Homo sapiens: one gene and its partner. The protein of the gene in region 1 purifies or fractionates together with the protein of each later gene. This does not show direct contact. Each region holds a gene or a part of one and is shown on either strand. Other genes may lie near its edges.

Region 1 (3,500 bases):
GACATTTATATATGTGGAAAGAAGAAAACATTTGCTTTTAACAACAGAAGGTCCAAGCAGAAAGCATGAAAGTCAAGGACACAGAGCTGACTCATCCTGCAGCTTTTGAAAAAAACAAAAACACCCAAAAAACAAATTCCATGAATGGCAAGAAAGTTTTCCCAAGACAACCTCCTTTTGGTCTTCCTATCTCAAATGCCTTCCATACGGCCTGCCTCCAACCCATCAAGCTCATGCTCTGCTCCCACTCCTAGAACACCATGTCATCTTGCATGTGAAACAGCAAATAATGAAACCTGGTTTCTCCACGTGGGTATGATGTGGTGCTCCAACTGGAGGGGTCCTGAGGGCAAGATCCTCCCTCTGGCATGTCCACAGTTATAAAAAGACTAGAACTCCCTCCCAGGGCTCATTGGGTGAAAAAGGAAAGACATATTCTCAAAGATCACAGCAGTACCTACTCCTGCCTCTGACCTGTGTGATAGCCATTGTCTGAGGTATAGAAGATGTAAGTGTTGTTGAGCTCCCCAGTGAACTCCAGCCTCTTGACCAGTTTCTCCACAAGGTCATCAACTGAGAGGAGAGTTTGCCACCTGGATGTGAACAGAAGGTAGAAATGGGACTTCAGGGGCAATGGCTGAGGTATCACTATCTTGCCAAAAAAAAAAAAAACCAAAAACAAAAACAAAGACACCCCCGTTTAAAAAAAAAAATCCAAAACAACCCCCGTTTAAAAAAAAAAAATTGCAAAACACTCTCCCCCAAAACTCAAATCCCCAATCTCCATTCCCTAGACCTTCCCATTGTAAAAAACAGATTAGAAAATTCCAGAACATAATTAATTCATTCCAAAGTTAATTGTTTCCAAAGAAATAAACTCGTTTTTAAATAACCAGTTAGCTTTACTTTTTATTGGCAATAGTGATGAGAGTAGAGACAATCGGAAGGAAGAGTTGTCCATTCTCAGTACTGTGTATTACAGATTAATTCAGATAGGACTGTGCTACAAAAAAGCTTAAGATGTTTGAACTAGGAGCTGGCAAGCTATGACTCATGGGCCAAAGCTTGCCCACTGTCTGTTTTTATAAAGTTTTATTGGACCACAACCATGCTCATTCATTTACATGTTACCCAGGGCTGCTTTTGTGCTACAACAGCAGAGCTGAGTAGTTGTGACAGAATGTATGACCTGCAAGCCTATTAATATTTACTATCTGCCCCTTTACAGAAAAAGTTTGCTTATCCCTGGTCTACACTAAACACTTCCTAAGAGAAAGTAATGGATTTTTAAAAATTGACTTAAGAGAATTTCTTGAAAATTCCAAATGGCAAAGGCAGATATTTTGATCTTGTCTAAGCTTTTGGGTCATTTGTCACATATGACAATGGGCTCTCTCAACCAAGTCACCTTTTCTTTAAAGCAGGAGAAAAAATTCTACCACATGGTTCAAGTTTGCAAGACTTTTGCCAAGTCCTAAAAATGGGCAGTCTAATTAGTACTGGGGTCCAAATGCCACCTCATTCATTTGAGTGTAAAGGAATCTCTCTGCTTCTGGTGCCCCATCGAAGCCTCTCTCCCACTGACTTGCTTCCCTCTGTTTTTGTTTCAGAGACAACAATGTGGTGTGGTCTCCTCTTCATGAGCTGATTTGCAGGGTCTTTAAAACCACTCAGATTGTTATGTAGCAGCAGCTCTTACCTTTTCCTAAATGCATTATCTAAAAACTGTATTGAAGAATTAGTCATTGGAGTCTTGGCTTGCCTAATTAACCAGTGCTTGTTCTAAAATTTAGAAGAAAAAAAATGTTAACACCAAGTCACCACAGTCAAACAAACTACTGGATTACTACAGTAGATAATAAATAGAACCGTTTCACTCATACTTCAGCAAGAAGGAACTAACTGGAACTTGTTTAAGCAATTTCAGAACTTCTCTCCCTTCCTGTGTTCCTAAAATAGAAATTTCTGTAGATTAACTCAATCTCTCATTCTTCAGCTTCCCAGCACCTCCCAAACCATAAAAGGTCTTGGCTTCTCTGTTGGCAGTATTAAGAGATTTTAGAGGATGTCACTGGGAAACTACTAGCTAAAGCGAGATTACATTTACAACTCTGATCTTATGCCTTTGGTCTACTACAATTAGAAAATGGGCAAATAGGGCGTAGTGGCGGGCGCCTGTAGTCCCAGCTACTTGGGAGGCTGAGGCAGGAGAATGGCGTGAACCCGGGAGGCGGAGCTTGCAGTGAGCCGAGATCCCGCCACTGCACTCCAGCCTGGGCGACAGAGCGAGACTCCGTCTCAAAAAAAAAAAAAAAAAAGAAAATGGGCAAATAACTTTACCTTCCTCTAAGTTGCTTTTTTTGAGACAGAGGCGGAGGTTGCATTGAGCCGAGATCGCACTACTACACTCCAGCCCAAGCCCAAGCTGGAGTACAGTGGCACGATCTCGGCTCACTGCAACCTGTGCCTCCCGGGTTCATGCGATTTTCATGCCTCAGCCACCTGAGTAGCTGGGATTACAGGCGTGCACCAACATGCCTGTCTAATTTTTGTATTTTCAGTAGAGATGGGGTTTCATCATGTTCGCCAGGCTGGTCTTGAACTCCTGGCCTCAGGTGATCCTCTTGCCTTAGCCTCCCAAAGTGCTGGGATTACAAGCATAAGCCACCATACCTGGTCTACCTTCCTCTAAGTTTTGCCTAGCCAAGATATCGGTCACCCTAGATCCTAAGGAAAAATCTTATTACAGCAATTTCCTAAAACTTCAAGTCTAAATCTGGAGGGCCCTCCCATTTAAACAAAGACATCCCTATATACTATTCTCTCTTCTCTATTCGTAAAACCCTAAGCCACCAGATCTCAAACTATGCTCCTCAAAGTGTTATTAAGTTTGAGAAATGCTGTATAGCATATTCTCCTGCTAGAAATTCACATTCGATCATGAATAACTCTGAGAAGTCCTGTAGCAGAGTGACTTATTTAACTCAAACTTTCCAAACTTACTTGACCATGGGAACTTTTTATTAACTTCTTTTGGAACACAGATTGAGAATCGTCCTATTTTACTATTTTTTAATTTATTTTATTTTATTTTATCTTATCTTGTCTCATCTCATCTTATTTTATTTTATTTTGATGGAATCTTGCACTGTTTCCCAGGCTGGAGTGCAGTGGTGCGATCTCGGCTCACGGCAAGCTCCGCCTCCCGGGTTCACGCCATTCTCCTGCCTCAGCCTCCCGAGTAGCTGGGAGTACAGGTGTCCACCACCACGCCCGGCTAATTTTTTGTACTTTTAGTAGAGATGGGGTTTCACTGTGTTAGCCAGGATGGTCTCAATCTCCTGACCTCGTGATTCGCCCGCCTTGGCCTCCCAAAGTGCTGGGATTACAGGCATGAGCCACTGCGCCCGGCCAGTACTCTAATTTAAAACACAGTTCACTCAGCTTTGAAACTGTATTTAACAAGCACATGCCTATAATGTGCCAGACAATATGCTAAT
Region 2 (3,500 bases), on another chromosome or scaffold:
TCCAACCTAGGCAACAAGAGCAGAAATCCATCTCAAAAAAGAAAAAAAGAAATTGAAATTATTTTTTCCCATTGACTTTTAATAATAAAATTAACATTGTTTTCATGGGAAAACATTTGGAATTGAAATGAAATAAAATCCATTCTAAAGAATGCAATAGGCCTCTTGAAGTTAAATATTAAAATGAAAAAATAACTCATTACAGCATTAAATTGTTAAGATTAAAAATAAATCCATAATACAAATAATTTTCTGCAGTTCACTACGACATGCAAAAAATGCAGTCCCCTGAGGTTTGGCCTATGGGAAAGTGTGTTGTACCTAGGGTCACTCTGCACTTCAAATACTGAAGGTAACATTTACATTATAAAAATTCTGTTAATATTGCAGGCATGTAGTTTATTTTATTTTTTTCTGAAAGGGCTGTCTGTGGCTCTTAATGTATTTTGTTTAACATCCTACATAAAAGTTTTACAGTAAAAAATGGTGTATCTTTTTGTGAAATGAAAATACATCAGCAATATTCAATGGGACTGGATAAAATTCCCCTTGTTTGAACCTTGATTTTAAGGTTAGGAATGAAAGCATTTTGTTGATGGAGATAATAGAGGTAAGAGGTACCTTTTAAAATAAATTGCACATAGCAGAAGAGGTAAGTGACAAACTTTTTAATATTTCACATGAGAATAATCTCAAAGTATATATCTATTTTTTTGACAGTATTCTTCTTTGTATCTCAAATTGTTTTGCTTTTTAAACATTCTTATTTTAGTTATCTGGAGCTTTGGAAAATGCAAAAGCTGAGATTCAAAGAATGCAACATGAAAAAGAGCACTTTGAAGATTCCATGAAAAAAGCTTTCATGAGGGGTGTATGTGCATTAAATCTTGAAGCCATGACTATATTTCAAAACAGAAATGATGCAGGTTAGTATTTCATTAAAGTTTCTCTGCCTAATTTCAAAAAAAGATTTGAGGAGATTTTGGTGATTGGTATGGTCTACAGTACAAATAATCTGCAGTAGGTATGTTTCATCCAGGTGCTGCTATTCTTAATTCTATGGTGTCATATCCAGACTTAAATCTGCCATGAAAATGAGCTCAGTCATGGTTACTTATGGTATCTTAGATCTGATCAAGTACACTGTCACTCCTAAGTATTTAAGCTAAATGTTGAAAATAATATTTTAATGTATAGCATTATTTTAAATCTCTTTTAACTAAGAATTTTAATGCCTTTTTAAGTACAAAACTTCTAATTTTGTCTTTTCTTAAGTAGCCAAATATTTTGGACTATTTTGGTAAGTATTTGTTATCTAGTCATGGTTTCTCATTTTAGAAATTCCTAATCTTCCTGTTTATGAAAGGCCTCAACTAAGCTCATTGCAGCAAACATAAATATAGACCTATCTATAGAAGTAATTTTATTTTTTTTAAAAATCCACATATTGTCTGACATAAGAGTGGTTTGTGTAGTAGTTTTGTCAGCATGGCGTAGAAAAGCCCATAACTAGAATCCTTTGCCACCAATTTACCCAGGGGCCTGTTTTCCTCATTCGGCCTTAGATTTCTTCTCTGAGCGAAGGAGATAATATAAACCTTCCTTACCTGCTTCCTAGGGGCTTCTTGTGGGATGCAGTAAAACATATCTGAAAACACTTTAAAAGACAAAATGCACTTTAACGTGTAAGATGATAGTCATGATGTAATTATTAATAGTTTTAATTCAAGTCAACGTCTCAAGATTTTGTAAATGATTAACATGATTTCAATCCAATGAATAACTTCTCTGTGCTTGTGATGCCCTTATTTTAAAACATCAACAAACATTTATTATTTAAAGCATGCATATTGTGGATAGGAGTAAGTTTAGGCAAATTGCTTTCTATCTGAAGTGGTTGTGGTTTGTGGGCCATATTTAATTTAGAAACTGAGAATCATGGAATCTCAAGGCTGAATAGTTTATTTTGGTAATACCTAGGTGAGTACTTGATTTTTCCAATAAATGGTCTTTTATTTGAGTATCAGGGTTGAAAACAAACTCACCACCTTCAATGATAGAATAGTCTGTTTCAGTTCTAAGTATCAGCAAGTTGTGTGTCACAAATTGAGAAATTTAATTGTTTACTTGGGAGAAATATGAGTTTCACAAGTAAAGTGACAAATTCCTATTAGAACTTCTTACATTAAATTACAAGAAACCTGTTTCTTATAACCTACTTAAAAAGATTTTGAATTGACTTAGGAGTATTTCCCACCTTAATACATTTACCATCTTAAAATGTAAATTGAAATGCAACTGTGTCTCCTAAAGGCCAATATCCATAAGAGGATTTGAAGAAAATGTCTTCTGCTAATTACACAACATGATTTCTTTTGCTCCTGTTACTTTTGAAACAATCGATGAGAAAGATGACAAGAATGGTAAAGCATGCATTAGCAATAATGTTGGTAGAGCTACCAAAGGCAAAAAAGTTCAGTATAATTCAGTGGATCTGCTTTGTGATATTTAGGTTTTATGACATTTTAATGACACCTATTTTTTTTAGTTCTCATAAGAAAAAAAAATTACTTTTGGCCCCCTTCTATTAAAACAACTGTTTTTTATAGGCCAGGCGCGGTCGCTCACACCTGTAATCCCAGCACTTTGGGAGGCCGAGGTGAGTGGATCACGAGGTCAGGAGATCGAGACGATCCTGGCTAACATGGTGAAATCCCGTCTCTACTAAAAATACAAAAAATTAGCCGGGCGTGGTGGCAGGCACCTGTAGTCCCAGCTACTCAGGAGGCTGAGGCAGAAGAATGGCGTGAACCCAGGAGGCAGAGGTTGCAGTGAGCTGAGATCATGCCACTGCACTTCAGCCTGGGCGACAGAGCGAGACTATCTCACAAAAAAAAAAATTGTTTTTTATAATGCAGTTTTTAATAATGTAAAGTTCCTAATGCATCTGTCTTGTTAGAGCAAAATAAATATTTGGTTTTTTATTTGTACCGATTCTTTGCTGTCTGTAATTTGCAGTACCTCTCATGTTGTGCAGTATCTTAAATCTTACAAATTAGAGGTTTTTATGAAGAAGTTAGAACATGACAAAAAGTCCTTAAAATTATATCTGCCAATTTTACTGTGCCAATTAGGCACAGTAAAAAAAAATACTTGACAAGTGAAAAATTTATTCCAGCTAAAATGAGATTAATTATTAAACTTAAGAGTTATCTGATATCAGCCTATATTAGCAAGAGTTGATCACCTGCCTCTCTTCCCTGACCTTCATACTGTTTCTACATCTCCTAATGTCTGCCACCATCTAAAGATAGACACTCAGAATCTCTACCAAAACAAGTTAAAACTCAGTGTGTGTTTTGTTTTCAAATTAAAAGTATTTTATATTGAATTAGTCCCTTTCATCAGAGGAGTTCAAAGGATCTAGGTAGGCACTGTAATCATTGTTAAACTTCTTAAATAAGCTAACTAACTAATACTCTGCAAATTTTCTATACAGA

Evidence for each region. Proteins that work in one complex are often made in the same cells at the same time.
Region 2: the proteins of GNS (region 1) and POC5 purify together in Homo sapiens (co-immunoprecipitation; one large-scale study listed by IntAct). This does not show direct contact.

Annotation. Positions count from the first base shown.
Region 1 is NC_000012.12:64,738,907-64,742,406, forward strand, and holds part of GNS (N-acetylglucosamine-6-sulfatase precursor), read right to left. Parts: intron 1,783-3,500; coding exon 1,700-1,782; intron 594-1,699; coding exon 475-593; intron 1-474. UniProt on the Homo sapiens protein: Hydrolyzes 6-sulfate groups in N-acetyl-d-glucosaminide units of heparin sulfate and keratan sulfate.
Region 2 is NC_000005.10:75,686,438-75,689,937, reverse strand, and holds part of POC5 (centrosomal protein POC5), read left to right. Parts: intron 1-772; coding exon 773-926; intron 927-2,609; coding exon of another isoform or gene 2,610-2,728; exon of another isoform or gene 2,729-2,990; intron 2,991-3,500. UniProt on the Homo sapiens protein: Essential for the assembly of the distal half of centrioles, required for centriole elongation. Acts as a negative regulator of centriole elongation.